Linked DNA regions of Homo sapiens: region 2 is linked to region 1. The links come from fine-mapping of genetic effects on gene expression. A gene starts in region 1. The other region holds a variant in brackets. All regions are shown on one strand. Distances are between the middles of the regions.

The links.
Region 2: its variant is fine-mapped to the expression of WFIKKN1 in pancreas (GTEx, PIP 0.98).

Annotation. Positions count from the first base shown.
Region 1 is chr16:622,269-635,515 of GRCh38, forward strand. WFIKKN1 (WAP, follistatin/kazal, immunoglobulin, kunitz and netrin domain containing 1) reads left to right here and starts at 8,717. Exons shown (of 2, transcript NM_053284.3): 1 at 8,717-9,156; 2 at 10,314-11,849. The coding sequence starts at 8,986. The coding sequence ends at 11,789. It overlaps RAB40C (RAB40C, member RAS oncogene family), which reads left to right. Exons shown (of 6, transcript NM_021168.5): 4 at 3,164-3,241; 5 at 3,631-3,853; 6 at 5,074-7,000. The coding sequence ends at 5,354. It overlaps METTL26 (methyltransferase like 26), which reads right to left. Exons shown (of 6, transcript NM_032366.5): 3 at 13,013-13,072; 4 at 12,621-12,688; 5 at 12,451-12,529; 6 at 12,162-12,376. The coding sequence ends at 12,329. RefSeq lists enhancers at 1-186, 5,139-5,872, 7,342-8,075, 7,601-7,895, 8,076-8,810 and 1 more and a silencer at 5,259-5,509.
Region 2 is chr16:650,062-666,080 of GRCh38, forward strand. It overlaps WDR90 (WD repeat domain 90), which reads left to right. Exons shown (of 41, transcript NM_145294.5): 3 at 1-106; 4 at 193-301; 5 at 478-648; 6 at 934-1,042; 7 at 1,138-1,205; 8 at 1,583-1,686; 9 at 1,766-1,978; 10 at 2,406-2,474; 11 at 3,280-3,390; 12 at 3,464-3,609; 13 at 3,685-3,742; 14 at 4,968-5,086; 15 at 5,246-5,407; 16 at 5,512-5,642; 20 more. Among named protein-coding and RNA genes, the nearest start is that of WDR90, 8.7 kb to the left of the region's middle. RefSeq lists enhancers at 1-163, 9,325-10,215. The variant A/ACTCC (reference allele first, on the strand shown) is at 7,662.

The sequences.
Region 1 (13,247 bases):
TACCCAAGAGCTGGCGCAGTACCAGTTCACGAGCAGGCGGGGGTGCTGGGCCTGAGCTCAGGGCGTGCGGGTGGGAGCAGCGCCAAGTGCCTCCACCCCCTTGACCCCGCCCGCGAGGCATGAGCGGCACCGTGGACACGTCTGTAGACGCTGAGGAAACTGACTGTCAGGGCGGCTCCTAGAGGGGCCTAGAGCAGGGCGAGCGCGCGTCCTGACTCATCCCCTAGAGCACTCGCTCGTTCTTTTGTTTTGTTTTTTGAGACACGGTCTGGCTCTGTCGCCAGGCTGGAGTGCCGTGGCGCGATCTCGGCTCACTGCAACCTCCGCCTCCCGGGTTCACGCCATTCTCCTGCCTCAGGCTCCCGAGTAGCTAGAACTAGGTGTGCACCACCGCGTCCAGCTAATTTTTGTATTTTTAGTAGAGACGGGGTTTCACCATGTTGGCCAGGATGGTCTCCATCTCTTGACCTCGTGATCCGCCTGCCTCGGCCTCCCAAAGTGCTGGGATCGCAGGCGTGAGCCACGGCGCCTGGCCGAAGTCGCTAGTTTTTTAAAAATCAGATCAGTTTTAGAAAACAGAAGGCAGTGGAAGAGTCTGTTTGTCCCGTGCTCTGCCCCTTGAGACACGCAGCTGAGGGTGCTTAGGGTGCCGTTCGTTAGGCGGCTGCTGGTCACCGAGAGTCTCCTTTTGGTTTCTCACTCCGTGGTCATTTGGGTCCCTGCGGCCTCACTGTGACCCACGCCGGAGCAAGCCTCCGGGTCCTCCTGTGCCATCGCCCCTGCCCGTAACCCCTACTCCTCAGACATGGCCATCCCAGGAAGTGGGGGCCCGCTCAGGGCAGCAGCCGGGAGGTGTGGCCAGGGCCCCCCGCGTCACAGCACACTTGGAGCCTGAGGCAGCCCATCAGCCGGGAGGCGGGCCTTCTGCTCTCTTTCTAGAGTTTTCAGTGTCATGCGAATAGGGGTGTTTGCCACAGAAAACAGGTCAGCATCAAAAGTTACCCCTCTCCAGCCTTTTAGCATTTGTTTTATGTCCATATAAACTTCTTCAGTGTAATGTGTTGTGTGTTCATACTTTTATTTTTTAAAAATCATGCTGGGCCGGGCGCGGTGGCTCACGCCTGTCATCCCAGCACTTTGGGAGGCCGAGGTGGGCAGATCGGGAGGTCAGGAGATCAAGACCATCCTGGCTAACACGGTGAAACCCTGTCTCTACTAAAAAAAAATACAAAAAAATTAGCCGGGCATGGTGGCGGGCGCCTGTAGTCCCAGCTACTCAGGAGACTGAGGCAGGAGAATGGCGTGAACCCGGAAGCGGAGATCGTGCGGCTGCACTCCAGCCTGGGCGACAGAGTGAGACTCCGTCTCAAAAAAAAAAAAAAAAGAAATCATGCTGGGCTGGGCACAGTGGCTCACACCTCTGATCCCAGCACTTTAGGAAGTTGAGGCAGGAGGATCACTTGAGGCCAGGGGTTCAAGACCAGCCTGGGCAACATAGCAAGATCCCATCTCTAAAAAATGTTTAAAAAAACTTAGCCAGATGTGGTGGTTCACACCTGTATTCCCAGCCACTCAGGAAGCTGAGGCTCAGAATATCAGGCTGCAGTGAGCCATGATCGTGCCACTGCATGAACCCCAGCCTGGCTGACAGAGTGAGACCCTGTTTCAAAAAAAAAGAAAATGCCATCCGCAGTGCTGGGACCTGCGTTCTTACCTCACCTGGGTTGCACATCTCTCCTTGGCCAGCATGCACGCTTTTACATGCACTGCTGCTGTCTTCAGCATCTGCACGGTACATTTCACTGCCGCTTACTCAGCTGTCCCCTGAGGCTGGACATTTAATTTGTGTCTGGCTTGTCGTTGTTATCAGCGCCACTGTGACACACATCCTCAGTTACTTCTGAGTTGTGGGCTTGCCATGCGGGAGGTTGCCATGCGGGAGGTTGCCACTAGGGAGAGTGGGCTGTGTTGTACGCTTTGGTGGCCCACTCCCCAGTCTCTCCACCTCCCCCAGCAGCAAATGAGCCAGCCCCAGTCCCTGTGCCCCAACCTCCAGGGTTAACCCCTGGGTGTGCATTTGTTTATTCTGAATCTTATCATTTATCGCCCACCAGACTGACTTGGCCATCTCTGGCCTCGAAGGGTCTCCCTCAGCGAGAGGTGTCCTTCCTGAGCTGTCGCTCCATCCTGAGCAAGGCCTTCGCCCTGGGAGCTTAGTAATGTCAACCTTGTTCTAAACAGGACCTGGGGCTACACTTCAGTCTTCCAGATATCGAAAGATGGTTCTAAGAGGCTCTAAAAACCCTAATTTTCAGATGGACAGTGCCCTCTTCTTTCAGCCTCAGCCTCTTGTGTGATAGGCTCTTCCATTACGTGAAGGTTTTGTCAGCCTAGGAGTAGGGTGGATCACAGCTCATTGGCTGGATCTGGTTGCAGAATTGTAGGGTGGGAGTGGACGTTGGGGAGAGGCGGGCATAGGGGAATGGGCCTGTGATGTCACCGTTTCGCCCGACAGGGCTCTGAGTGTGAGCAGTGTGCTCCCCTGTGCTGCTGGAGAGCCATGACTGTCACTGCCGAGATATTTAGGGCAGGTGGAAACAGCCCAGAGCTGAGCTCCAAGTAATTGGTCTCTAAGGGATGTGGCAAAAAGTCCCCGTGGCAAAACCTGCTCTGCCTGGCTGGGGGAGCTTCACAGAAACTGTCCTGGAGGGACTGGCATTCTGCTCTGCAAGTTTTAGGTTGGAAAACTCAGAAATGCCCCCACTCAGCTCTGTCCCAGGTACTCCCGGGGGGATTCACTGATGGACTGGCCGAGAGGACACTTAGCTTCCACAGCTGCACGTCCCCCGGCTGCCAGAACCCCGCATCTGCCTGCCCAGGAAACTTCCACAGGCTGATGGCTCCAGGGGAGGGAGGGGAAGCGGCATTTCTGACACCATGGAAGGCGCCCACCCCCCTGCTGCAGTCCTGCCAGGTGAGGGCAGGGGTGAGGGGCAGGGCTGCACCAGCTCTGCCTGGAGGGCATGGCTCATCTGCCCATCCGCCAAGTAATAAGCATCCTTGGCCCTGCCCGGGAACTGAGGCCCCTGCACCTGAGCGTCCCTGGGCCTGGGCTGGCCATGCGTGTCAGTGACCCCTGATGACCCCCAAGTCTCTGTTGCAGGGGATCCTCTTGGTGTATGACATCACCAACCGCTGGTCCTTTGACGGCATCGACCGCTGGATCAAGGAGATCGATGAGGTAGGCCTGGGTCCGGGGAGCCCTCCCGGGGAAGGCAGGCTGGATGGAGGTACCTGGGCCCCGGGTAGGCTCTGGATTCCCGCCTGCCGCCCCTCCTGTGGCCCCGGCTCTGCACCCTGCACTGTCCCACGGCCTACGCCTGGGCATGCTGGTCACTGTGCACACGACAGTCGGGCGTGGAGCCCAGCAAGACCAGGAGCTACGGGGCCACCCGGAAGGGCTGCACTGTAGGGCCTGAGCCCTGGGGTCTGCCCACCTTGACCTCCGCCCACCTTGACCTCCCACGGCCCTCACCCCATCATAGTCCAGACAATGAGGGCGGGCCCTGCTGCGGCTGAGGGGTGGGTGGCACCCTGCGTTTGTGCGTCTGCTGAGTTCTGTGCCCCCAGCATGCACCCGGAGTCCCCCGGATCTTGGTTGGAAACCGGCTGCACCTGGCCTTCAAGCGGCAGGTCCCGACGGAGCAGGCCCGCGCGTACGCAGAGAAGAACTGCATGACCTTCTTTGAGGTCAGCCCCCTGTGCAACTTCAACGTCATCGAGTCCTTCACGGAGCTATCCCGCATCGTGCTCATGCGGCACGGCATGGAGAAGATCTGGAGGCCCAACCGAGGTGGGTGGGCGGGCGCCGGCCAGCCCTGAGGTCCCCGAACCTGGGCTGCCCTGATCACATGGAGGCTGAGGGGGGCCAGGGGCCAGTGAGGGAGGTTCAGGCAGGTCCCTTGGCAACGCGCAGTAGGGGCTCGGCCGGCGGCAGGTCAGTGACTTGGTAAGAGCAGCCTCGGGGGAGAGGCGGCAGCACTGGGGGGCACAGGAGCAGCTGATGACCCCCCCTCAGGGTGCCGCCGTGGCCGCTGCACTCTGCCATGCCTGTGGGTCCCTGGCATTGCTGGTGTGGGCAGTGTGTGCTCGCTCCTTCCTGGTTCCGGGGCTGGTCCTGCTGTCAGGGGAGCACAGGAGCCGTGCCTGCAGCTTTGTGTTGTGTCATCTGCTCTTCCTGGGTAGCCACATCCTTGATCAGAGGCTCCCGTGAAGCCCCCCTCAGGGAGGTGGTACTGTTGATTTTGTGGTGCCTCCCAGCAGGGTTCACTGCTGAACAGAGAGAGGGTGGCTGACGGTGTCACTGTCCTTCTTAAGAGGAAGCACGGGCCTGGCACGGTGGCTCACTCCTGTAATCCCAGCACTTTGGGAGGCCACAGCAGGTGGATCACCTGAGGTCAGGACTTCGAGACCAGCCTGGCCAACACGGTGAAACCCCGTCTCTACTAAAAATACAAAAATTAACCGGGCGTGGTGACGCACACCTGTAGTCCCAGCTATTCGGGAGGCTGAGGCAGGAGAATCGCTTGAACCCAGGAGGCGGAGGTTGCAGTGAGCGGAGATCGTGCCACGGCACTCCAGCCTGGCGACAGAGCGAGACCCGTCTCAAAAAACAAAACAAAAGAATGAGCGAGTGCTCTAGGGAATGAGTCAGGACGCGCGCTCCCCCGCTCTAGGGGATGAGTCAGGACGCTTGAAGGGCCAGATCACGCAGCCCTCACACTGGGAGCTGCATCATCCAGGCCAGGAACTGGGCAGAGTGCCCTCTGGAAGCCCCGCAGCAGCACCGCCCAGCGTGCCTGGCTTTAGGGAGCAAGGCAGGGGATGGGGTGCCAGTGGACACATCTGTGCTGGGCAGAGAAGTTTGGGCGTCCAGGTCCTCCAGGAGCCCAGCCTGGGAACACCTCTAGGAGTGTGGAGACCCCGCCAGGCTTCTCTTGGGCACCTCAGGTCTCCCTGCACAGGGCCTCCTCCCCCACAGCCCCATGGTCTGACACCCCCTCTGCCCCACAGTGTTCAGCCTGCAGGACCTCTGCTGCCGGGCCATCGTCTCCTGCACCCCCGTGCACCTCATCGACAAGCTTCCACTGCCCGTCACCATCAAGAGCCACCTCAAGTCCTTCTCGATGGCCAACGGCATGAACGCGGTCATGATGCACGGCCGTTCCTACTCCCTGGCCAGCGGGGCCGGGGGCGGCGGCAGCAAGGGCAACAGCCTCAAGAGGTCCAAGTCCATCCGTCCACCCCAGAGCCCCCCCCAGAACTGCTCGCGGAGTAACTGCAAGATCTCCTAGCGGGGATGGGCGGGGCCGCCTGTGCAGATGCCAGGAGGGCTCGAGCTGGACACTCCTGGCTGGACGCCAGGCCAGTGCCGCCTACGTGGAGACTGTCCACACAGCTGCCTCAGAAGCGCCGGGCTTTCCTCACACCTGAGCCGGGTGCGAGGAGGAGCATGCACGGACCAAGCGCGGCAGGCGGGAGGAGGGGGCGCGGCTGGGCTGCTGGTGCTTCCGGGAATCTTGGTCGGAAACAAGCCGGGCCTCCCCAGCTGCCTGGGCTTGACCGGCGGGGAGCCTGGTTGGCCTTTCTTATTTATATAGAGAACACTTCACTTTTTTGTACATTTTTAAGGGGCCTTCAGGGAAGCCTGGGTGTGGCCCGGTGGTGGTGCACTGGTGACTTCATGGCCACGCCAGCTGCGGGGACGCACTTGGGACTCCTCGAGAGGGGACTCGCGGCCGCGATGGCAAGGCATCCTGTGAATTCATGCGCTGCGAGTGGCGGGGCTGCCCAGAGGCCGGGGGAGCAGACAGGGCCGGTGCTCCCTCTGGAAGCTTGGGTGACCGGGGCCCTGGCTCCCACGGGATGGAGGGTGTGGTCCTGTGGTCAGAGCCCAAGCAGCACTCAGGAGAGGGGAGAAAGGAGGTGCACCTGGCAGCCCACATTTTTGTTGCTCCCCAAATCCCTCCCCACGTGGGGATGAGAACCTTCCTGCTGTGATGTGACACCTTCGGGGACATTGACCACTCAAAACTCAGATCATCTCGCCCACCCTGGAGAGTGCAGAGCTATCTGTAGACTTAGGAATACTTGATGGGCAGCGGTGCAGACCCCGGGCACCTGCGTGCAGCCTCCTGTTCTCGGCAGCTTCTGTCGCTGGCCCTGGGGTCCCCACAGCTGCAGCTCTCCTGTGAGGTTGCACGGCATCAGAACCATCCTGACCTTCTTAGGGACGTGCCTGGAACCACCTCGTCCACGTCCACGTCCACCTGGGGGCCTCGGGAGGCTAGGCCCCTCCTCAAAGGCCCACCAGCCCGGCGCTCATGCTGAGCCCCAGGCACGCAGGGCCGGCCACCTCTCTCCTGAAGCCATTGGCCGCTCCTCCACCCAGTGCTTCTGCCCATGCCTGCCCCAGCAGCCCCTCTGCACGGTCACCATCGCCTGGGCCTGCCCACAGCACTGGTGCTCACCTCTACCTCCTGTCCTCAGGCCGTGCGGCACGACATGGCCAGCACGCAGAAGGAGCCCTCCCGGGACCCAGGACCCCCCGTGGTGGACTCCGCGGCACATGCTTCCCAAGGTGGTCCCACGGAGGGTGTTACTGGGCACCAGTGGACTCGCCCCATGGCCCGTTCCTGGGAGATGAGGGCCGTGGCCTGCATGAACTACCAGATGAGTAAGGGAACCCCAGGCAGGCGGCCCTGCCACAGCCCCCAAAGACACTGGCCTCCTGCTCCAGCTTCCCTGTCCTGGCCCCACCTGTCCTGTTGCTGCCAGCAGGGCCCTTGTTTGGGATTATGAACAAACCTCACAGACTTTGAGGACCTGGATGGTCCTGCATTCACGGCATCAACACTACCCGCGCTGCTGTTAGACACTCCGCCATTCCTGGTTCTCTCCGAACCGTTCTTTGTACAGTAAATGTAATTCAGCTGTGGTCCCCACGTTTTGCTGTGTCTGGTGGGGTGGGTCTGGCAGTGGCGGTGCCCCGTGCCAGGGGCCAGTGCTGCTTCATACCCGGCAAACTGACCTCTGGCCTTTGTTTTGCCTGCTGTTCCCTGCGCTGACCGGGCTGACCTGCCGCGGTTGGCTGGGTTCGCCTCAAAGTGAGGGCTGGAGCTGGGCTGGAGCAGCTGGGCCTGGTCACGGCCATTCTCCTCTTCCCGGTGGATGGAATCCCAGCTGGGCTGTGCTGAGCCCTCGCTCACAGTCCCCGGCAGCAGATGGCCTGGGGCGGACTGTCCCCAACAGCAGCAGGACTCCAGAGGGCCAGGTCCTCCAGTCAGTCGGCCCGCTCAGCAGAGCCGCCTGCACGCTGGCCAATCTGGTGTCTGCTATGCCCGGCCCAGGGGGGTGTGGACGCCCCGGAGGTCACAGCTGAGCTGGAACGGGGCACTCCAGTTGGTACAGGGACCAGACCACAGCCTCTGGCTCAGGTGCCTCCCTGTGCTGTTTCGTGGGCATGTCCGGGCCTTAAGCCCCTCCCTGGCAGCTCCAGCCCAGCCGCCTGCTGCTGGGTCTGGCCTAGCTACCCCCACCCCCACGCTATCAGGGCCCACCCCCAGTCTCCTTGTAGAGCAGGGACTGGCGCCTGGAGCCGTCTCCGGGTCTCATTCTGACCAGACCAGGCTCCTGTTACCCTGCCTCCTGGGTCAGAGGTCAGACACAGGGTCAGGGGGACACTCCCATCCGGTCTCAAGAGAACCACTCCCTGAGGCCCCAGACATCTGGAGCCACAGAGGGTTTGGAAGGGTAGATTCCAGGCAGCCTTTTGTCCTGCTGCACCAGGCAGGCCAGCCCCCTGCCCTCCCCAACGAAGAGGAGCCAGCCTGGGGATGTGTGCCCCGCCGACGGGGGGCTGGGGCAGGGCAAGGCTCTGGTGCCCTGGGACACTTGCTCTTTTCAGCTGCAGACGCCCTTGCACTTGGCCTTCCCTCGGGCGGTGCCATCCCACGCGGAGCCACGTCCAGGGCTACACGGTGCGTGGGCCGAGGCTCCGGCATCAGCGTTTCGGGCTGTTCTTATGCTTGTGGTGGCCACAGGCCTCTTCCTGCTGCACCTGCCCCGCCTTGGGGACAGGCCTGAGCCCCAAGCCCGCTGCCTGGTTTCAGGGATGGGGTCTCTGGGAATGCAGTCCTGCCGGGTTGGGCCCCACTCCAACAGGGGCAGCAGAGCAGAGGAGGCCGGGCTGTGCTGGGCGTCCTGCAGACCCCTGTGCCCCTGAAACAGCCATGGAGGGGGGAAGGAACCTCGGAGCGGAGTGAAGCCCTCGGCCGCACGTGACCGTTGCCAGCCTGGACCTGGCCCGGGGGACCCAGGCTGTGGTCAGCCACGCTCTGCGGGGAGGGCCCGTGCCTGCCACCCCCATGGCATAGGAGCCTGGGGTCCAGAGGGCGCCAGGGACAAAAGCTGGGATCTGCTGGCCCTGCCCCCACCCTACTGAGGGTCGTCAAGGAGATTGATCTCAGCCCAGGGGTGGACGAAGGGGTTCAGGTTACAGGGTCCCCTCCCCTCCCCCTCTCCAGCCAGAGCCAGCCCTTCCCCGCCCCGGTGACCCTCATGGCCAGTGGCTCTGTGCTCATGGGCCTCTGGCCCCTCCCCAACCTCCTCCCCTCTGCCCTGTGCTGACCAGGGCCTGGGAGCCCCCGCACGGTTCAGACAGAGGGGCCAGGCTGAAGCTGGAGAGGAACCAGCGTCACACAGACGGCCTCTGAGAACTTGGAGACCCCGTTACCCACCCAGCAGGGGTGTCAGGACAAGCATCTGCTGCAGGCTTCAGCCTCAGGGGCAAAAGGGAGCCCCGGGGTCCTGGTGGGGGCACCGACCACAGGCCCGGAGGGTGGATGCCTGCAGGAAGCTGGGCTCTGTGGAGCCCGAGGAGGGGCTGGTGGCCACACCCCCCGGCCCCCTGGCTCGGCGGCCCTCATGCCCGCCCTACGTCCACTCCTGCCGCTCCTGCTCCTCCTCCGGCTGACCTCGGGGGCTGGCTTGCTGCCAGGGCTGGGGAGCCACCCGGGCGTGTGCCCCAACCAGCTCAGCCCCAACCTGTGGGTGGACGCCCAGAGCACCTGTGAGCGCGAGTGTAGCAGGGACCAGGTGAGTGTGGTCGGGCCGGGGTCCTGGGGCTCAGAGCAGCCAGCCTGGGCAAGACCCTGCTGGAGGTGCCACCTTCTGCCTGGGCTCCCCAGACTTCTGGGGGGTCTGGGTCTGGGCCCCTTAAGGGGCCCAGAGACACCCCCATCGTTGCCCTCATTTGTCTTAAGAATAAGAGCCCTCCCCACTCCAGCTTTCATGCTCCCCATGTGCCTCCACCCTGGGGCACCATCATCCTCGGCGACCACCCCCACCCCGTCACTGCCTCTCCTCCCACCCTCTCCTCCCACCCTCTCCTCCCATCCACTTCTCCCACCCCTTCACTGCCTCTCCTTCCATCCTCTCCTCCCACCCTCTCCTCCCATCCACTCCTCCCATCCACTTCTTCCATCCTCTTCTCCCACCCCGTCACTGCCTCTCCTTCCATCCTCTCCTATCCACTCCTCCCATCCACTTCTTCCATCCTCTTCTCCCACCCCATCACTGCCTCTCCTTCCATCCTCTCCTATCCACTCCTCCCATCCACTTTTTCCATCCTCTTCTCTCACCCCGTCATTGCCTCTCCTTCCATCCTCTCCTCCCATCCACTTCTCCCACCCCTTCACTGCCTCTCCTCCCACCCTCTCCTCCCATCCACTCCTCCCATCCACTCCTCCCATCCACTTCTTCCATCCTCTTCTCCCACCCCGTCACTGCCTCTCCTTCCATCCTCTCCTCCCACCCTCTCCTTCCATCCTCTCCTCCCACCCTCTCCTTCCATCCACTGTCCTCCCTGTCCTCCCACCCTCCTTCCATCCGGGACCAGTGCAGATGGTGGTGGGGGTGCTGCAGCCGATGTCCAGCCTTTGTCCTGGCCCGCACCACCTGCTGGGTGGTCCTGAGCACTGTACGCCCTCCTTGGGCCTCAGTTTCCTCGTCTGTACAACGTAAAGAATAACGGAACTTGCTTGTGGGTGTGAGGATTCTGGAAGGTAAGCCAGGTGGCACCTCTGGCGAGGTGGCTCCTCACACAGGATGGAAAGGACACTGAGTCCCCGGGGAGGCAGCCACAGAGCGGGGGGCTCCCTGCTACCCCACCTGGGCCTCCCCTTGCAGGGGCCAGGCCAGAGCCCCGGGGCGGGGGGCATTGGGGCTCCCACCTAAGTGTCCCCCATCCCCAGGACTGTGCGGCTGCTGAGAAGTGCTGCATCAACGTGTGTGGACTGCACAGCTGCGTGGCAGCACGCTTCCCCGGCAGCCCAGCTGCGCCGACGACAGCGGCCTCCTGCGAGGGCTTTGTGTGCCCACAGCAGGGCTCGGACTGCGACATCTGGGACGGGCAGCCCGTGTGCCGCTGCCGCGACCGCTGTGAGAAGGAGCCCAGCTTCACCTGCGCCTCGGACGGCCTCACCTACTACAACCGCTGCTATATGGACGCCGAGGCCTGCCTGCGGGGCCTGCACCTCCACATCGTGCCCTGCAAGCACGTGCTCAGCTGGCCGCCCAGCAGCCCGGGGCCGCCGGAGACCACTGCCCGCCCCACACCTGGGGCCGCGCCCGTGCCTCCTGCCCTGTACAGCAGCCCCTCCCCACAGGCGGTGCAGGTTGGGGGTACGGCCAGCCTCCACTGCGACGTCAGCGGCCGCCCGCCGCCTGCTGTGACCTGGGAGAAGCAGAGTCACCAGCGAGAGAACCTGATCATGCGCCCTGATCAGATGTATGGCAACGTGGTGGTCACCAGCATCGGGCAGCTGGTGCTCTACAACGCGCGGCCCGAAGACGCCGGCCTGTACACCTGCACCGCGCGCAACGCTGCTGGGCTGCTGCGGGCTGACTTCCCACTCTCTGTGGTCCAGCGAGAGCCGGCCAGGGACGCAGCCCCCAGCATCCCAGCCCCGGCCGAGTGCCTGCCGGATGTGCAGGCCTGCACGGGCCCCACTTCCCCACACCTTGTCCTCTGGCACTACGACCCGCAGCGGGGCGGCTGCATGACCTTCCCGGCCCGTGGCTGTGATGGGGCGGCCCGCGGCTTTGAGACCTACGAGGCATGCCAGCAGGCCTGTGCCCGCGGCCCCGGCGACGCCTGCGTGCTGCCTGCCGTGCAGGGCCCCTGCCGGGGCTGGGAGCCGCGCTGGGCCTACAGCCCGCTGCTGCAGCAGTGCCATCCCTTCGTGTACGGTGGCTGCGAGGGCAACGGCAACAACTTCCACAGCCGCGAGAGCTGCGAGGATGCCTGCCCCGTGCCGCGCACACCGCCCTGCCGCGCCTGCCGCCTCCGGAGCAAGCTGGCGCTGAGCCTGTGCCGCAGCGACTTCGCCATCGTGGGGCGGCTCACGGAGGTGCTGGAGGAGCCCGAGGCCGCCGGCGGCATCGCCCGCGTGGCGCTCGAGGACGTGCTCAAGGATGACAAGATGGGCCTCAAGTTCTTGGGCACCAAGTACCTGGAGGTGACGCTGAGTGGCATGGACTGGGCCTGCCCCTGCCCCAACATGACGGCGGGCGACGGGCCGCTGGTCATCATGGGTGAGGTGCGCGATGGCGTGGCCGTGCTGGACGCCGGCAGCTACGTCCGCGCCGCCAGCGAGAAGCGCGTCAAGAAGATCTTGGAGCTGCTGGAGAAGCAGGCCTGCGAGCTGCTCAACCGCTTCCAGGACTAGCCCCCGCAGGGGCCTGCGCCACCCCGTCCTGGTGAATAAACGCACTCCCTGTGCCTCAGACCTCCTGGCTTGCTGCTGCTGGTCGGGCGACCCTCATCCTTCCAGGTGCCCCATGCCCAGCCAGTTTCCGCTGGGGCCTTGACACCCACTGGGGCTTGGGCTTTGGTACAAGGTCACCAGGGAGTGCCTGTCCGCCCCTGCATCCCCAACCAGCTCCATCCTGCCTCAGCAGCTGTCTCGGCCCCAATCCCACTGCCCGAGCTCCAGCAGCAAGGATCAGGACGTCCCAAGCCCTTGACCCCACAGGAGACCCCGTCTCCCACCCAACCTCACAAGGTGCTCCTAGGAGGAGGTGGGGCAGACACCAGCAAGCCGGCAGCAGGACATGCTTTATTCTGAGCAGGCTGGGCCCTTCGGCCAGCGGCTGAGAGCACAGACTGGGTGGGGCTGTCGTCCACAAGGTCCGGCCTAGGGAGGCAGGGTTCGTGCCTCACAGAGCCTCCGGCAGGGATGCAGGTGTGCGGGGGTGAAGGAGGGGCTTAGTTTTTCCGGAAGATCAGGCATTTGTTGTTGGCTGGCATGTCCACCTGGAGAAACACTTTGCTGGAGGACGGCCCTCAACCCCTAGAGAGGTTGCCTGGGCCCCCGCTCCCCCACCTACCATCCTCTCCAGGAGCAGGCCACTGGCCTTTCCCAGGTCCTCCAGGAGGGCTGTGTCCCGAAGCCCCCATTCTGGGTTCCTGCAGAGGGTGGGGAGATGGAGTCATGGCCTGGGGGGTGCCACCCAAGCCACCTGCCACCTGAGCCAGACCCCCCGCCTCTAGCTCTGACCTGCATCTGAGCATCAGGTCAAAGTCCACGTTGCTCTGGGGGGAGATCTTCCCATTGATGGCATAGGGCTGTGGGCATGGGGACACAGCCCACTGGACCAAGGTCGGGGTATTTCCCAGAGAGCCTGGGACAGACTTGCAGGCTGGGGTTTGGAGAATGAAAGGGCACCCCCTCCCTGTCCCCAAGAGGGAGTCAGCCAAGGCCAGCCTGGTGGGCAAGGGGGTAGGGAGGCTGGCAGATGACCCAGGGAGGGGTACAGACTGGAAGTGGAGGGGAGGCCGTGCTGGTGGCTGGGCGGGGGGCAGGGAGCCCAGGAGGGAGGACTCTCAGCAGGGCAGGAGACAGCAGCTAGGACTGGGAGCGGGAGGCCCGCCGTGGACAGGCCCACTCACCCCGTAGGTGATGAGCAGGGCCCTGGGTTTGAGCAGGTGTCCTGCTGCTCTGAAGAGCCCCTGGTGAGTAGGAACAGGACGGCAGTGAGGTGCTGCCCCCAACAGAAGCCAGGCCCTGAGGCTGGAGACCCTCACCCCGACTGTGATGGGGGAGGCTGGAGACCCTCACCCCGACTGTGATGGGGGAGGCTGGAGACCCTCACCCCGACTGTGATGGGGGAGGCTGGAGACCCTC
Region 2 (16,019 bases), 29 kb after region 1:
TAAGAGCAGCACCCAGTCTCTGGGGCTGACGGGACGATACCTGTATGTGCTCTTTCGGCCCCTGCCCAGCAAGCACTTCGTCATCCACCTCGATGTGTCCTCCAAGGTACGGAGCCCGCGGCTGGGGGCTGCGTGGGAGCCCCGGCACCCCTGCGGCCCCTGTCTCCTCACGGCCCTGCTCCGTCCCCACAGGACAACCAAGTCATCCGTGTGTCTTTCTCCAACCTCTTCAAGGAGTTTAAGTCTACGGCCACGTGGCTCCAGTTTCCCTTGGTCCTGGAGGCCAGGACACCTCAGAGAGGTGACACCAAGATGGGGTGTGGATGATCCAGGACAGGTGGCTGGAGGGAGTTGGTGCAGGCCCAGTGAGGCTCCTCTGCGGCCTGGAGGACAACCTGGCGGGGGCACAAGCTCACAGTTCTGGGAGTCGCGGGCTGTCAGGAGGGTGGGCGCTGACCCTGAGTGCCCATCCTGCAGATCTGGTGGGTTTGGCCCCCTCCGGAGCCCGCTGGACCTGCCTGCAGCTCGATCTGCAGGACGTTCTCCTGGTCTACCTGAACCGGTGCTACGGCCATCTCAAGAGCATCAGGCTGTGCGCCAGCCTGCTGGTCAGGAACCTGTACACCAGTGACCTGTGCTTTGAGCCTGGTGAGGGCCGCACCTGCACTCCCCACTCCATATCTCACCCATGCTCTCAGCCCTGGAGAGGCCCAAGTCCAGGGTGCTTGGGAAAATACAGTGCTCGAGCTGTGCTGTCTCTGAGCTCTGGCCAGAACCCATCCCAGAGGCAGCCCTGGGGTCAGAACCCATCCCAGAGGCAGCCCTGGGGTGGGGCGGTGGCTGGGCTGGTGGCGTGGCAGTGCCTTGGCGGGTGCCCTGTGTTCAGGTGGCTAAACAGCCTCCCTTGACCTGGAACAACCCTGCTCCTTGTAGCCATCTCTGGGGCCCAGTGGGCAAAGCTGCCCGTGACTCCTATGCCTCGGGAAATGGCATTCCCTGTGCCCAAGGGAGAGAGCTGGCATGACCGCTACATCCACGTCCGGTGAGTGGTTCTGCTTCTTTCGAGGGAGGCCTCGGTGGTGGGAGGGTGGGTGGCCCTTGGGCCCCCAGACACTGACTCTCCCTCTGCCTGCCAAGGTTTCCAAGTGAGAGCTTGAAAGTGCCTTCCAAGCCGATTGAGAAGAGCTGTTCCCCTCCTGAGGCAGGTGGGTCTGGGGGGTCAGCGGGGACCCAGGTTAAGGCCTGTAGGGTGCGTGGGGCTCGGTAGGAGAGGGCAGGGCTGGGAAAGGACCCAGTGGTGTGCTGGCTGCAGCTGGTGCAGGGACCCAGGGAAGCCCGTAGGTTGTCCGAGTTCCCAGAACCACGAGGGTGGGAAGTCTGTGTGAGGGGTACCCGGGGGCCCCAAGCTTTCTAGCTGGAAGAGGAGACTTTCAGGGCCTAGGGTGGAAGTGGGGATACTGGCTGTGGGTCCTGCAGAGCCGGTGAGGCTGGGCCACTTGCTGCTGCCCTCCCCAGGCGTCACCCTCACCAGGCATCTGCACAGCTGGCCCCTGGGTCACTGGGGTTCTTTGCTCTGTTCTAGTCCTCCTGGGGCCGGGGCCACAGCCTCTCCCTTGCCCGGTGGCCTCCAGCAAACCTGTGCGGTTCAGTGTGTCTCCAGTGGTCCAGACGCCCAGCCCCACAGCCGTGAGTACCCCCTTCGCCCTATGAGATGGGGTTGGGGTGTGATGGCCCAGGACGCTGATGGGCACTTGTCCCCCAGCAGTCCGGCCGGGCCGCCTTGGCACCCAGGCCCTTCCCGGAGGTCAGCCTGTCCCAAGAGCGCTCAGACGCCTCCAACGCGGATGGCCCCGGTTTCCATAGCCTTGAGCCCTGGGCCCAGCTGGAGGCCTCTGACATCCACACGGCTGCTGCCGGCACCCACGTGTTGACTCACGAGTCGGCTGAGGTGCCCGTGGCCCGCACCGGCTCCTGCGAAGTGAGTGCCCATCCCACAGCAGGCGGGGCCTGGTGAGGTGTGGGCTGGGGCAGCTGGTAGCCCGCCCCGAGATGCATTCAGAACGGATGTGCCTCCAACGGTCTCCTCTTGTTCAGCCTCCTGGCAAGGAGCAGAGCTGGCGGGAGGCGGCTTTGGGGAAGAATCTCTGTCCACAAAGAGTAAGGCAGGGCTTCTGCTCACCCCCAATGCGTCAGCCCCAGGTGGTCTGTGGGGGACCCTCGAAGGTCTGGCAGTGCAACTGGAGTCCCAGCTTCCACCTTACCACAGCCAGCAGGAGCCACCCAGGACCAGGGCAGTCTTCTTGAGAGGCAGGACCCAGCTAGGGGTTGGCGGGGCTCGGAGTTGGTCGGGCATTCTGGGGACCTGGCTGAGCCTCCCAGGACTTTGATGCGAATGGCTGTTTCAGGGCTTCCTCCCAGACCCAGTCCTGAGGCTCAAGGGCGTCATCGGCTTTGGGGGCCACGGCACCAGACAGGTGAGGCTCCTGCGGCTGTGTCCAGAGCAGCTCTCGTTGGCCGGCTCGAGCGCTGAGTACAGAACGGGGAGAGAGGAGAGACCTATGTCCTGTGGTGGCTGTGTGTGGGCTCCCGAGCCCCCCTGGCACAGCGGTCCCGTCCCCCTGCAGTCCGCTGCTTCCCGCGTGCTCAGGCATCTGCCCCGCCCACAGCTGCTGTCACCTCCTGGTGCCCGGGGGCTCTCAGGGTCACGGGCATCTCTTACTCACTGGCTGGGCTAAGTGCTCCCCCCGAAGACCCAGAGCTCTCACGTCTTTAGAGCTCTGATGATCCAGACCAGCAGTGTGGGGCCAGGCTGTGGGCACAACCTGTAGGTCCCTCATGGGTGACGTGGGCCTTCTAGGAGAGGAGCCCCATGGCAGAGGAGGTGGCCTTCCCCTCTGCCTCAGTGGCCTTGGGCCCTTGTCAGGCCCTGCTGGGTGCCTGCTCTGAGTGTTTGGGGGCCCTTTGGCCTTTTGTTACCCCCACCCCGGAGTTTCTTGCACTGGAGGCGGGGCTTAGAGGACAGGCGTCTGTGCATGTGTGTACACGTGTCTGCTTGAGTGTTCCAGCTGTTCTTTTGACACATGCAGCCTGTGACTCGTGTATGTAGTGTGTGCAGGGTGTGTGTTCTCTCTTGCCCCTGGGTGGCTGTGTGCCCAGGTGTGTGTGCCAGGCCTGCCACCCCCTCTCCCTGGGCTGGAGTGGGAGGTGAGGCTGACCTCCCGGCAGCCAGGAGGGGCCTGGCGTAGCACCGGTCCTCAGCCCCCCGCCCCCTTGTGCCAGGCCCTGTGGACCCCAGACGGGGCGGCTGTCGTGTACCCCTGCCATGCGGTCATCGTCGTCCTGCTCGTGGACACGGGGGAGCAGCGCTTCTTCCTTGGCCACACAGACAAGGTGGGTGCTGCCCGGGCCTGGGGCAGCTCACACCTGCAGCCCCTACACCCTCCCTCACCCTTCTGCCTCCTAGGTCTCCGCCCTGGCGCTGGATGGCAGCAGCTCACTATTGGCCTCGGCCCAGGCAAGGGCCCCTAGTGTGATGCGGCTCTGGGACTTCCAGACCGGGCGGTGCTTGTGCCTGTTCCGGAGCCCAATGCACGTTGTCTGCTCTCTCAGGTGAGCACAGGTCTGCCCCATGCAGGGGGAGGGGGTCAGCCCAGGCGACAATGACCACCTCCTCCCTGTTCACAGCTTCTCTGACAGCGGGGCCCTTCTCTGCGGGGTTGGCAAGGACCACCACGGGAGGACGGTAACAGGGCCCTGGCTGCGGGTTGGGGTGGGGCTGTCCTGATGCACGCAGACAGCTGGAAGGGTCTTGGTTTTCTGAAACTCCAGCTTCATGTGACCCTGGGTCCCTGCTCTGTGTCCTCCCTGTGGTGGGGCTCCCTGCACTCTGGTGTTCATGCCGCCCCCGTGCCCTGCACAAAAACCACCACCAGCAGCTCACATTTCACGTCTCGGCTTTTCGGCCATCGGAGTCGGTTTAAGCCAGCGTTTACACACCTCGCCTCGTTCTCTCTGCTGGTGATGCGGTTGTAAGATTTTCACGTGGCAGAGCCCCTGCAGCTGACCCACGCTTGGGCATCAATGGCACCTCCACACAGCCGAAGCACCCGGCATCTTGGTGGGGGCACCTTTTTAAACATTTTTTTTTTGAGAGAGAGCCTTGTTCTGTCACCTAGGCTGGAATGCAGTGGTGCAATCATAGCTCACTGCAGCCTTGACCCCCTCCCTGACCTCCCCGCCAGCTGGACTCCAGCCATCCTCCTGCCTCAGCTTCCCAGATAGCTGGGCCACAGGCGTGTGCCACCACACCTGGCTAACTTTTTTTTTTTTTTTTTTTTGAGATGGCATCTTGCTCTGTCGCCCAGGATGGAGTGCAGTGGCGCGATCTTAGCTCACTGCAAGCTCCGCCTCCCAGGTTCACACCATTCTCCTGCCTCAGCCTCCCCAGTAGCTGGGACTACAGGCGCCTGCCAACATGCCTGGCTAATTTTTTTTTTTTGTATTTTTAGTAGAGATAGGCTTTCACCTTGTTAGCCAGGATGGTCTCACGTTTTGTTTTTTTAACTTTTTGTAGAGATAGGGTTTCATTACATTGCTCAGGCTGGTCTCAAACTCCAGGGCTCAAGCAGTCCTCCCACCTCAGCCTCCCAAAGTGCTGGGATCACAGGCATGAGCCACTGTGCCCAGCCACGAGCTGCTTTTTATCCACCTTCCGGCTTGCGGGGGGGTTTGTACTTCTCTGCGAATGGGTTGCAGTGCTCAGCATTGCGGGTCTCTGTAGAAGTCCCAAAGCTTCAGGATGAGAAGATGGAGGGGCTGGTTTCCTTCCACTCTCCACGGCCGCACGCTCAGAGGCTGGTCTCCGCATGAGAGAAAAGCCACCTCCGGGTGGGGCTCGGCTGGGCCTTGCAGAATCGAGGTGGCCCCGACTGGCCCTGCCGTGCGGGCTCAGCCTGGGCTTGTTGCAGATGGTGGTGGCCTGGGGCACCGGCCAGGTGGGCCTCGGTGGCGAGGTGGTCGTTCTGGCAAAGGCGCACACTGACTTTGACGTCCAGGCCTTCCGGGTCACCTTTTTTGATGAAACCAGGTGATGCAGCCGCCCATCCACGATGTTGGGAGAGGGTCTGGGCCCGGAGTGGGGGCCGAGGCCCGAGCACCTCCCCCTGGCTTGGCTGTGCGTCTCTGCGTCTCCCGGTGGGTCAGGGCGCTGCGAGCTGCGGCAGTGCTCAGTCCTCATTCCTTGCAGGATGGCGTCGTGCGGGCAGGGCAGTGTGCGGCTCTGGCGGCTGCGTGGCGGGGTGCTGCGTTCCTGCCCCGTGGACTTAGGGGAGCACCACGCGCTGCAGTTCACCGACCTGGCCTTCAAGCAGGCCCGGGACGGCTGCCCGGAGCCCTCGGCTGCCATGCTGTGAGTCCCTGCCCTTCCCCACGGCCTGCCCCGGCATGGGGGCCCTGGTGCCTGGGCCTCCCCTTCCCTGAGGGCCTCACCTTCCCTGCCGCCTCCTCGGGCAGCTTCGTGTGCAGCCGCAGTGGCCACATCTTGGAGATTGACTGTCAGCGCATGGTCGTGCGGCATGCCCGCCGCCTGCTCCCCACACGGACTCCAGGCGGTCCCCACCCACAGAAGCAGACCTTCAGCTCAGGTAAGAGGGCGCCCACCACGTGGCCAGGGTGGCAGGGACACCGAGGCACTGACGCCTCCCTGCCCCCAGGCCCCGGCATTGCCATCAGCAGCCTCAGCGTCTCCCCGGCCATGTGTGCTGTGGGCTCTGAGGACGGCTTCTTGCGGCTCTGGCCCCTGGACTTCTCCTCGGTGCTCCTGGAGGCAGGTGATGCTGTGGGCACGCTCTCCCAACTCCGGGAGAGCCTCGCCTGGATGCTGGGGCGGGGAAGGCCCAGTCCCCGGGGCTCTGCTGTCAGCCGCCCTGGCTCCTGGCTGCACAGGGTGCCACGGGGCCAAGTGGCATATCCAGAGCCCTGGGGCGGCTGATGCCAGGGCGGCCCGCGGGGCAGCCTCACGGAAGGGCCCGGTGGGACGTGGGTAGTGTGTGAAGCCCCTCAGCCTGGGTCCCGCCTAGCCTAAGAGTGGTGGCCTCGAGGGAGCTGCATCTTGCAGCCGTGTGGAGCCTGGGACTTTGAGCAGCAGGGAGTGCATTTGCTGGGGTGTCGGGGACCCGAAGCCTGAGCATGCGGCTCACCCCGGGGTGGCCCTGGAGGCCCCTGACCCCACCCCACCCACAGAGCACGAGGGCCCCGTCAGCTCAGTCTGTGTCAGCCCCGATGGCCTCCGTGTGCTGTCTGCCACCTCCTCGGGCCACCTGGGCTTCCTGGACACGCTGTCCCGGGTGTACCACATGCTGGCTCGCTCCCACACCGCCCCGGTGTTGGCCCTCGCCATGGAGCAGAGGCGGGGACAGCTGGCCACCGTGTCCCAGGACCGTACCGTCCGCATCTGGGACCTGGCCACCCTGCAGCAGGTGGGGTTTGGCAGGGGCAGCACGGCAGGGAGGGCCGGGAGGTCCTGAAGCTGGGGTTTGTCAGCGGGGGTGAGAGGGGCCTATAGGGACCTGGACTTTCCAGCCTGTGTCGGCCCCATGGGTTTGGGCCGCCTGGAGAGCCCCTGGGCCCTTGAGATCCCTGCCCTCCCCTCAGCACGGCCCCTGTCCCACAGCTATACGACTTCACATCATCAGAGGACGCCCCGTGCGCTGTCACCTTCCACCCCACAAGGCCAACCTTTTTCTGTGGCTTTAGCAGTGGGGCCGTGCGCTCCTTCAGCCTGGAGGCCGCTGAGGTCCTGGTGGAACACACGTAAGTGCCCAGCTGGCCACCAGCCCCACGGAGACCCCACGGTGGAAGCTGGGGTGGCCAGGTGGGGGTCATGTGCAGGATGGCCAGTGCTGGCTGGAGCCCCACCCTTTGCTGCCCCATGGGGACTTCCATGGCCAGGCTGGTTGGCTGGAGGTCGAGGGAACCCATGGTACCTGGGCTTCGGGGCTAGGGCCAGCGGGGTCCCTGTGTGTGCTGCAGGTGCCACCGAGGAGCTGTCACCGGCCTGACCGCCACCCCTGACGGCCGCCTGCTCTTCAGCTCCTGCTCCCAGGGCTCCCTGGCCCAGTACAGCTGTGCGGACCCCCAGTGGCATGTCCTCCGAGTGGCAGGTTGGGCCCCCTGCAGCCACTCTGGGGGACTCCTCAGGGCGGGGGAGGCCTGGATCTGGTGCAGGCCCACACCTGGACACACATGCCGGTTTCCTGGTGCACCGACTGGGTCCTGTGGGGGGGCGTGGCCGCCTCAGTAACCTTGTCAAGGCCCTGAGGAGACTGTGGTTTAGCGTTCACTGGACCCCAAGGCCAGAGGTCAGCTCGGGTCTGTGCCCAGGAGGCGGCAGGCAGCCCAAGCTCCAGGTCAGCAGCTGGAGTCAGACCCAGGCATGGGCACCTGCCCTGTCCTGCGGCCACCATAACTTGGGCCCCCTGAGTGGTCACTTATGACTACTGCTGGCCCACGGGGACTCCCAGCTCCCCTGGCAGCGCCTGGCGCCCACTGGCACCTTGGCAATCCTCTGCCGGTGTGATGCGTCTGTGCTCCGGGGCTGGTGTTTCCCGAAAGTGGGGGCAGGGGCGGCGGCCTCCTCGGGCCCTGGCCACGCGCACCCCGGC[A/ACTCC]CTCCCCACCCAGCTGACCCCTGCCCCGTGTGGCCACAGCGGACATGGTATGCCCGGATGCCCCCGCGAGCCCCAGCGCCCTGGCAGTCAGCAGGGATGGCCGCCTGCTGGCCTTTGTGGGACCCTCCAGGTGCACAGTGACAGTCATGGGCTCGGCCTCCCTTGATGAGGTGAGTCCGCAGCCCTCCTGGGTCCAGGGAGACTGGGCCATGAGAGGCTGGCTGCAGGGGCAGGAGGGAGGTCACGGCCACTCGGGAGCAGGACCCAGGCCCTGTCCCGCCTCCTGTCGCAGAGTACACATCAGCCATGTGGGGCCCACGTGCGGCCAGGTTCCTGTGCAGGGCAGGTGCTGCCTGGGTGCCGAGTGCGTGTCCCCGGGACCTCCCTCCCGAGCCTGACCCTGGGTGGCACCGGCTCTGCCCAGGGGCCCTGACTGTCGGCCACTTACCACTACCCCCAGCTGCTGCGAGTTGACATCGGCACTCTGGACCTGGCCAGCAGCCGCCTGGACTCAGCCATGGCTGTGTGCTTTGGCCCTGCAGCTCTGGGCCACCTGCTGGTGTCCACCTCGTCCAACAGAGTCGTGGTGCTGGATGCTGTGTCGGGCCGCATCATCCGGGAGGTGAGCCTCAGGGCTGTGGCCCGCCGACCTGGCCCTCCCTGTGCTGTCCAGGCCTGGCCTCTGTGCCTGCAGCCTCTCCAGCTGGGTGGGGGGCCGTCGCCACACCCACAACGAAGGGAGGCCCCAGGCTGCTGGCCACTCTCCTGAGACACGGCATTTCCCAAGAGCACTGTGTTCCAGCTGCCCGGTGTCCACCCTGAGCCCTGCCCCTCCTTGACGCTCAGTGAGGACGCCCGCTTCCTGCTGATTGCCGCCGGCCGGACCATCAAGGTGTGGGACTACGCCACACAGGCCAGCCCAGGCCCCCAGGTGTGTGCGTGGGGAGGCAGGTGGCTTTGGCGGTCAGGAGCCTCCTCAGGTGGCCCTGGAGACCCCTGCAGGTGTGGGTGGGGGCAGGGAGAGCAGAAGGTGAGGGGTGAGAGTGACCCCCCAAGGATCCTCTGTGCCTCCGGGGCCTCACACTGTGTGGGGCTCACCGTCCCTGGGGACTGGGCACACGGCAGCATCCATGCCCCGCCTCGGGGTCCTGCATGTGACGCCGCTACCCCTAGGTGTACATCGGCCACTCGGAACCCGTGCAGGCTGTGGCCTTCTCTCCTGACCAGCAGCAGGTCCTCAGCGCAGGGGACGCCGTCTTCCTCTGGGATGTCCTGGCCCCTACTGAGAGGCAAGTGCCTACTCTCAGCTGTGTCTGCCTAGGCCCCCCAGGCCCTCCTGAAACCCTCTCTCCTCCCTCTCCAGCGACCAAAGCTTCCCCGGGGCCCCCCCAGCCTGCAAGACAGGTGAGTGGCTGTGCTCAGCTGGGGTGCAGGTGCTGCGCTGACTCTGGGGCCCGTCCTGTGTCTGCCTAGTGGCCCTTCCTCTTCCTTCCCAAACATCACAGGGCTGCTTCTTCCCCAGGCCCGGGCGCAGGACCGCTGGAGGACGCAGCGTCCAGGGCCAGCGAGCTCCCCCGGCAGCAGGTCCCCAAGCCATGTCAGGCATCTCCACCACGGCTGGGCGTCTGTGCCAGGCCTCCCGAAGGTGGCGATGGTGAGCAGCAGGGGTCCTGGAGGAGTGGGGGGATTCGGGGGTCTGAGAGGGCACAGGCCCAGTGGCAGCAGGTACTCACGCACGTCCAGCTCTGGGGTGCAGGTGCCATCGCTGCTCATCAGGTGGAACACAGTGGGGTCGGGGTGGGGGCAGCTTTTCCTCTCCTCCTTAGCCTCATCAGGTGGAACACGGTGGGGTCGGGATGGGGGCAGCTTTTCCTCTCCCCCTTGGCCCCAGGCACCTTGTCCCCGTCAGATGAGGAAGGACCCTGTGAGGAGAGCTGTGACCCCGAGGGGCTTGGGCAGGCCTCAGGCCCACCTGTGCTCACGGAGGAGGAGGCTGGCAGGGCTGGAGACGGGGCCTGGGCTGCGGCAGTGGGCTCCTGGGGGCTTGCCCTGCCTCCCCGTTCCCCCGGCCAACCCCGTGAGCAGTGGAGGGCAGGGCAGGGACGCTGGTGCCGGTGCAGGGGCCTGAGGACGGTCGGTGAGTCCCCCGTGTGACGAGGCAAGGTCACCTGCAGTGGGACACGGTTTGCCTGCGTCTGTGGCTCCGGCCTGTGCCCCGCCGTGCAGTTCTCACTGTGTGGTAGACCAGGGGCTTGTGGGGAGACTGCGTGTAGTGTGGGGTCTCTGAAGAGCTCAGGGCAGTGTAATGCCACAAGCTCTGCCTCCTCCCTGCCAGGCGCCAGGGACACCAGGAATTCGGGGGCCCCACGCACCACCTACCTGGCTTCCTGCAAGGCCTTCACGCCTGCCAGGGTCAGCTGCAGCCCCCACTCTGCCAAGGTGGGGAGTGGTTTCTGGGAGCCCTCTTTATCCCCAGCAAGCACAGAGGCCCCCCGCAGGGCTCCCCAGCACCTCCTCAGGGTTGCTTTTGGTCGCCAAAGGTGATGGCTCTGGCCCTTGGGCGCCTGTCCCCTGGAGGCAACTTCATCCCACACCCCCACCCCTGCCCTCCGCTGGCCTCCAGACGGGACTCTGTGGTGGCCTCCTGCTGACCTGCCTTCCCCTCTCACCCAGCAGCTGCCCTTGATGAGAGCCCCACGGGCCTGTGCCCCTCCTGGCCCTGGCACAGTGCCCACAGCTCCCACACCTCCTACCCCAGCTTCCCCGTCTGCCCCTGGGTGTCCTCTGCAGCTGGCCTGGGTGTGCCCCAACACAGCCTCCCATGTGCAGGCTTTGGGGCACAGGTGGCCATGCTGGGCCCCAGCAGCATCCGGGTCTCCTTCCTCGCAGGGCACTTGCCCGCCTCCCGCCAGCGGTGGGTGGCTGCGTCTGAAGGCTGTCGTCGGTTACAGCGGGAATGGGCGGGCCAACATGGTCTGGAGGCCGGACACAGGTGGGGGCCAAGAGCCTACCCCCACCCCCAGCCAAGATGCGGCCGCGCGTGGTCCAGCCGTCTCCACCCCAAGGCCAGGACCTGGTGGCAAATGAGCGCCAGCCATCAGTGTGGGGCTCTGTTCTCCCGGTAGCGCCTCCTGGCGCTCCAGCCGAGGTCCTGTGAAGCACTTTGGCTACTGGACGCTGGGGAGGGCGCAGCTGGGACGATGCTAACCCCTTGGCCCCGCCCCACGGCTCGGCCCAGGCCCCGCCCCCTGTTCGGCCCCTCCCCAGGCCCCTCCCCGCCCCCCCCCCCCCCCGGCCCGGCCTCAGGCCCCGCCCTCTCTGCGCACAGGCTTCTTTGCCTACACGTGCGGCCGCCTGGTGGTGGTGGAGGACCTGCACTCTGGCGCCCAGCAGCACTGGTCCGGCCACTCTGCGGAGATCTCCACGCTGGCCCTCAGCCACAGTGCCCAGGTGCCCGCCTGCATCGCCCTCCTCCTCTCCCAGGGCCACCGTGCCCGGCAGAACCCAGCTCCCGGACCGGTGCGGGTTCTCACCACCAAAGACGGAGCAGACGGCCACCCCAGCCTCCACTCCAGCCAGCCACGGCCTCCCCACTCACGCCTGGCCTCTTGCCTGCCAGGTCCTGGCCTCTGCCTCGGGCCGAAGCAGCACGACCGCCCATTGTCAGATCCGCGTCTGGGACGTGTCTGGCGGCCTCTGCCAGCATCTCATTTTCCCCCATAGCACCACCGTGCTGGCCCTGGCCTTCTCACCAGATGACAGGCTTCTTGTCACACTGGGTCAGTGGGAGGGAGGGTGGAGGCCAGGGGCTTCCCTAGACCCCGGGGGGGGCTGCATCTGTGCACCTGACGTGGCTGCTCTGTGTCCTTCCCAGGGGACCACGATGGCCGCACCCTCGCCCTGTGGGGCACGGCCACCTATGACCTCGTGTCCTCCACCCGCCTCCCGGAGCCGGTGCATGGTGTGGCCTTCAACCCCTGGGACGCCGGCGAGCTCACCTGTGTGGGCCAGGGCACTGTCACCTTCTGGCTCCTTCAGCAGCGTGGGGCAGACATCAGCCTTCAGGTGCCACCCGTTCAGCGTTTGGGCCCAGGGGTTGTTTTGTGGGGTGGAATCTGCCTGGGCCCCGGGACACTGCTGACCCATGGCCACTCTCATACTTTGCCAGGTGCGTCGAGAGCCAGTCCCAGAGGCAGTGGGGGCTGGAGAGCTGACCTCGCTCTGCTACGGGGCACCTCCCCTGCTCTATTGTGGCACCAGCTCTGGCCAGGTCTGTGTCTGGGACACGCGTGCCGGCCGCTGCTTCTTGTCCTGGGAGGCGGATGACGGTGGCATTGGTGAGTGCCCCGCAGAAGCCCTGTGGCCCTCAGGACCCCTACCTGGGATCCTCAGAGCTGGGGCAGAGGCCTCATCTGTAGCCCTGGCGTCCGGGCAGCCTTGTGACCCAGGGCCTCTGGGAAGGCAGCCGTGGCCCCTTATGGCTCCTCCTGCCCCTAGGGCTGTTGCTGTTCTCGGGTTCTCGATTGGTCAGCGGCAGCAGCACGGGGCGGCTGCGCCTGTGGGCCGTGGGGGCTGTGTCGGAGCTGAGGTGCAAGGGCTCAGGCGCCAGGTGAGCTGTTCACCCCTACGTGTTTTGGCTGCACGTGGGTGTTGGTGTCCCTGACTGGGGCTTGCAGCCAGTGCCCCGCCCCCGCAAAGGCCGCCCTGCAGACCGGCCGCCTGCTAGCCCCTCCAAGGGACAGGCTTGGGTGTGGCCTGGGCCTCACTGGCTGCTGTCGAGTACGGGCATGGGCCCAGAAGCCCCAGCTCCATGGGCTTTCTCTTCTTCCACCGGGAGGGCACAGCCAGGTCCTGAGATGCAATGCTGAGGGCCCTGCCTCGGCTGGGGACCCAGCTGGCTCTTGTCATCGGCCTTGAGACCCATTGTTCTCTCCTTCCCTGCACCCTGAGGTCCAGTTCTGTGTTCATGGAACACGAGCTGGTGCTGGACGGGGCTGTGGTGAGTGCCAGCTTCGATGACAGCGTGGACATGGGCGTCGTGGGCACCACGGCGGGCACGCTGTGGTTTGTCAGCTGGGCCGAGGGCACCAGCACACGTCTCATCAGTGGCCACAGGAGCAAGGTGAGGGACTTCCAGCCTGGGCAGAGGCGGGGCAGCCGAACCTGGTGCCCTCCCTGCCTGCCGGCTCCATCTCCACCAGCCCAGATGATTCCAAGTCCTGCCGTCACTGGCTCGCAGCGGCCGCCTTGGGGTTCCCAGCGGGGAAGTCTTGGGTGTGCACGTCCCCTCAAAGCCGTCCCGGTTGTGTCTGCACAAGCGAGCCGCCTGGCAGGCCTTGCAGGTCTTCTCAAACTGTCCTTTCCCTGCTATTGCTTTGCGTTTTTTTGTTTGTTTGTTTTTTGTTTTTTGTAATTGTCAAAGAAATCACATCAGTCCGGGCGTGGTGGTTCATGCCTGTGATCCCAGCACTCTGGGAGGCCAAGGCAGGTGGATCACCTGAGGTCAGGAGTTCGAGACCAGCCTGGTCAACATGGCGAAATCCCATCTCTACTGAAAATACAAAAATTAGCCGGGCCTCTTGATGTATACCTGTAATCCCAGCTACTCTGGAGGCTGAGACAAGAGAATCGCTTGAACCCAGGAGGCAGAGGTTGCAGTGAACCAAGATTGCACCACTGCACTCCAGCCTGGGCGACAGAGACTCCATCTCAAAGGAAAAAAAAAAGATGAAAAACCCCACATCGTCTGTCCCTGCACCTCCCATAGACTGGCTTTGCTGACTCAGTCTCATGGGATTGTTCTCTGAGGCTCAAGAGGTCAGGAGGCCCAGGTAGCTACTGGGTCAAGTTCTGCTCTCTCTGGGTCAGGTCTGTTCAGGTTCTGGTTGGTGTTGGGTCTAGTCCTGTAAGGCCCAGCTCTGGCCTGCAGCCTCCTGGTGCTGGAGCTGCGTCTCCAAGAAGTACACAGCACTCATCTCTCTGGGACCTCCTGGTCTGGAAGCTCTGTGGCCTCATGGGGTTGGGACAGCCACCGTGTCGCCCCCTCACCCGCCAGCTGCAGCCTTAGGAGAGGTGGCCTCCTGGGCGGAATTGGGGCGGCAGGACAGGTGCCATTCCTTCCCCTGCTGGACCAGGTTCCTGGCGTGGCGTTGGTCTAGCAGCTGTGGCCATGGGCTTCCTCCTGTGGGTGTAAGAGCTCTGCGTGTGGTCAGCTGGGCCCCACGGGATTGATTTTTCCTTGATGCTGAGTCCCATCATCCAGTTGCCCCTGGGTTGTTTCTTTAGAAACCTGTCTTTAGTATTTGGAGATGACGATAGCCAGCAAAGAAAGTTGAGTTTGAGACAGGTGAGGGTTGTTTACTTTTCTGGAAGCAGGTTTGCTGAGGTGTAGTCGTCACAGCACAAGCTCCGTGTGTTTCAGGGGGTGGCTTTTGGCATATTCAGCAGCTTTGGAAACCCCGTGCGTGCCTAGAGGAAACCCCGTGCGTGCCTGTTCCTCGGTCGCTCCCTGCTTCCCGCCTCCCCAGCCCCTGGCGACCGTTGAGTGGCTTTCTGTGTCTGGGTCTTCCCATTCAGGATATTCTGTAGGAACTGGCTCACCTGGCTTCTCACCCTGAGCATGGTTTCCAGGGTCATCCCAGCCGCTGTGTGTGCCAAGCCAGTCATCCCTCTTGATGGCCAAATACTGTTCCATTGTACGGATAGATCATGTGTGTGTCCATCCACCAGGGCTGGGAAATTCGGGTCCTGAGACCGTGACCTGAGCCCGTGGTCACTGGTGGCCTTCCTGTGATGTGGAAGTGCGAGGAATTCTGGGCCCCGCCTGTGTGGTTCTGCCTGGGCGGTTCTGCCTGGGCCTGGACTTTGCCGTTTCCTTGTAGGGCCCAGGGCCCTCCCGGGGAGATGGACTGAGCTGTCCTGGTCTGAGTCCCTGCAGTCCCTCATTGCTCAGCTGAACTGAATTTTTTTTTTTTTTTTGAGACGGAGTTTCTTGTCGCCCAGGCTGGAGTGCAGTGGCATGATCTTGGCTCACTGCAAGCTCCGCCTCCCGGGTTCACACCATTCTCCTGTCTCAGCCTCCCAAGTAGCTGGGACTACAGGCACCCGCCACCACGCCCGACTAATTTTTTGTATTTTTAGTAGAGTCGGGGTTTCACCGTGTTAGCCAGGATGGTCTCGAACTCCTGACCCCGTGATCCGCCCACCTTGGCCTCCCAAAGGGCTGGGATTACAGGCATGAGCCACCGCGCCCGGCTGAACTGATTTTTTTTTAATGAAGTGCATCGTGTTCCCACTTGCACTTAAAGTTCACATTTGGTGCCAGGCTGTATTGCTTCTTCTCACTGGTGAGTGGCAGCTGTGTCTCCTTTCTGCCAGTCCAGCAGTCCCAGCTGTCAGTGGCACCTGCATAATGACACGTCTGCATTTCCCCCCAATCAGCGTGCAGCGGTTTTGGGAGGAGGAATGCGACTGCATGGCGCGCTCGCTGCAACCTCAGTCTGCAGCCTGCTAGGGACGCACGGCCACACTCCTGTCTTTCAGCCTCAGTCTGCAGCCTGCTAGGGACGCACGGCCACACTCCTGTCTTTCAGCCTCAGTCTGCAGCCTGCTAGGGACGCACGGCCACACTCCTGTCTTTCAGCCTCAGTCTGTAGCCTGCTAGGGATGCACGGCCACGCTCCTGTCTTTGAGGTGCTGTCAGAACAGCTTTCTCCTCGGTATCCCGCCGGGTTTGACTGGCTAGTGGGCTTGCTTTGGTTTGGACTCACCCAGATCTAGTGCAGGGACACACACGGGGGCCGGCATTGCTCCTTTCCGCCATGTGGAGTTGGCCGGGGCCAGAGGCACATGCTCTGGTTTGGACAGCCCGGCCCTGGGGGCTGGAATAGGAAATGCCTGCGTCCCTTTACCCTGCCCAGGGGCCAACACCCCCAGCCTAGCTACGGCTTCCCCCAGGTGAACGAGGTGGTCTTCAGCCCCGGGGAGTCCCACTGCGCCACATGCAGTGAGGATGGGAGTGTGCGGGTGTGGGCCTTGGCCAGCATGGAGCTTGTGATCCAGTTCCAGGTGCTGAACCAGGTGTGTGGGGAGTGCCCGGGCCGGGGGCGGGATGGGGGCCTGCTCAGTGGGGGGCCTGGCATGGGCGGGGCCGCCTCCTCCCTCTGGCCTGGGTGTGTGTCCTCAGGGCCCCTGTGAGTGCTGAAGTTTCCCCACTGTGGGTCCCCAGAGCTGCCTCTGCCTGGCATGGAGCCCCCCGTGCTGTGGCCGCCCTGAGCAGCAGCGGCTAGCGGCTGGCTACGGTGACGGCTCCCTGCGCATCTTCAGCGTCTCCCGCACGGCCATGGAGCTCAAGATGCA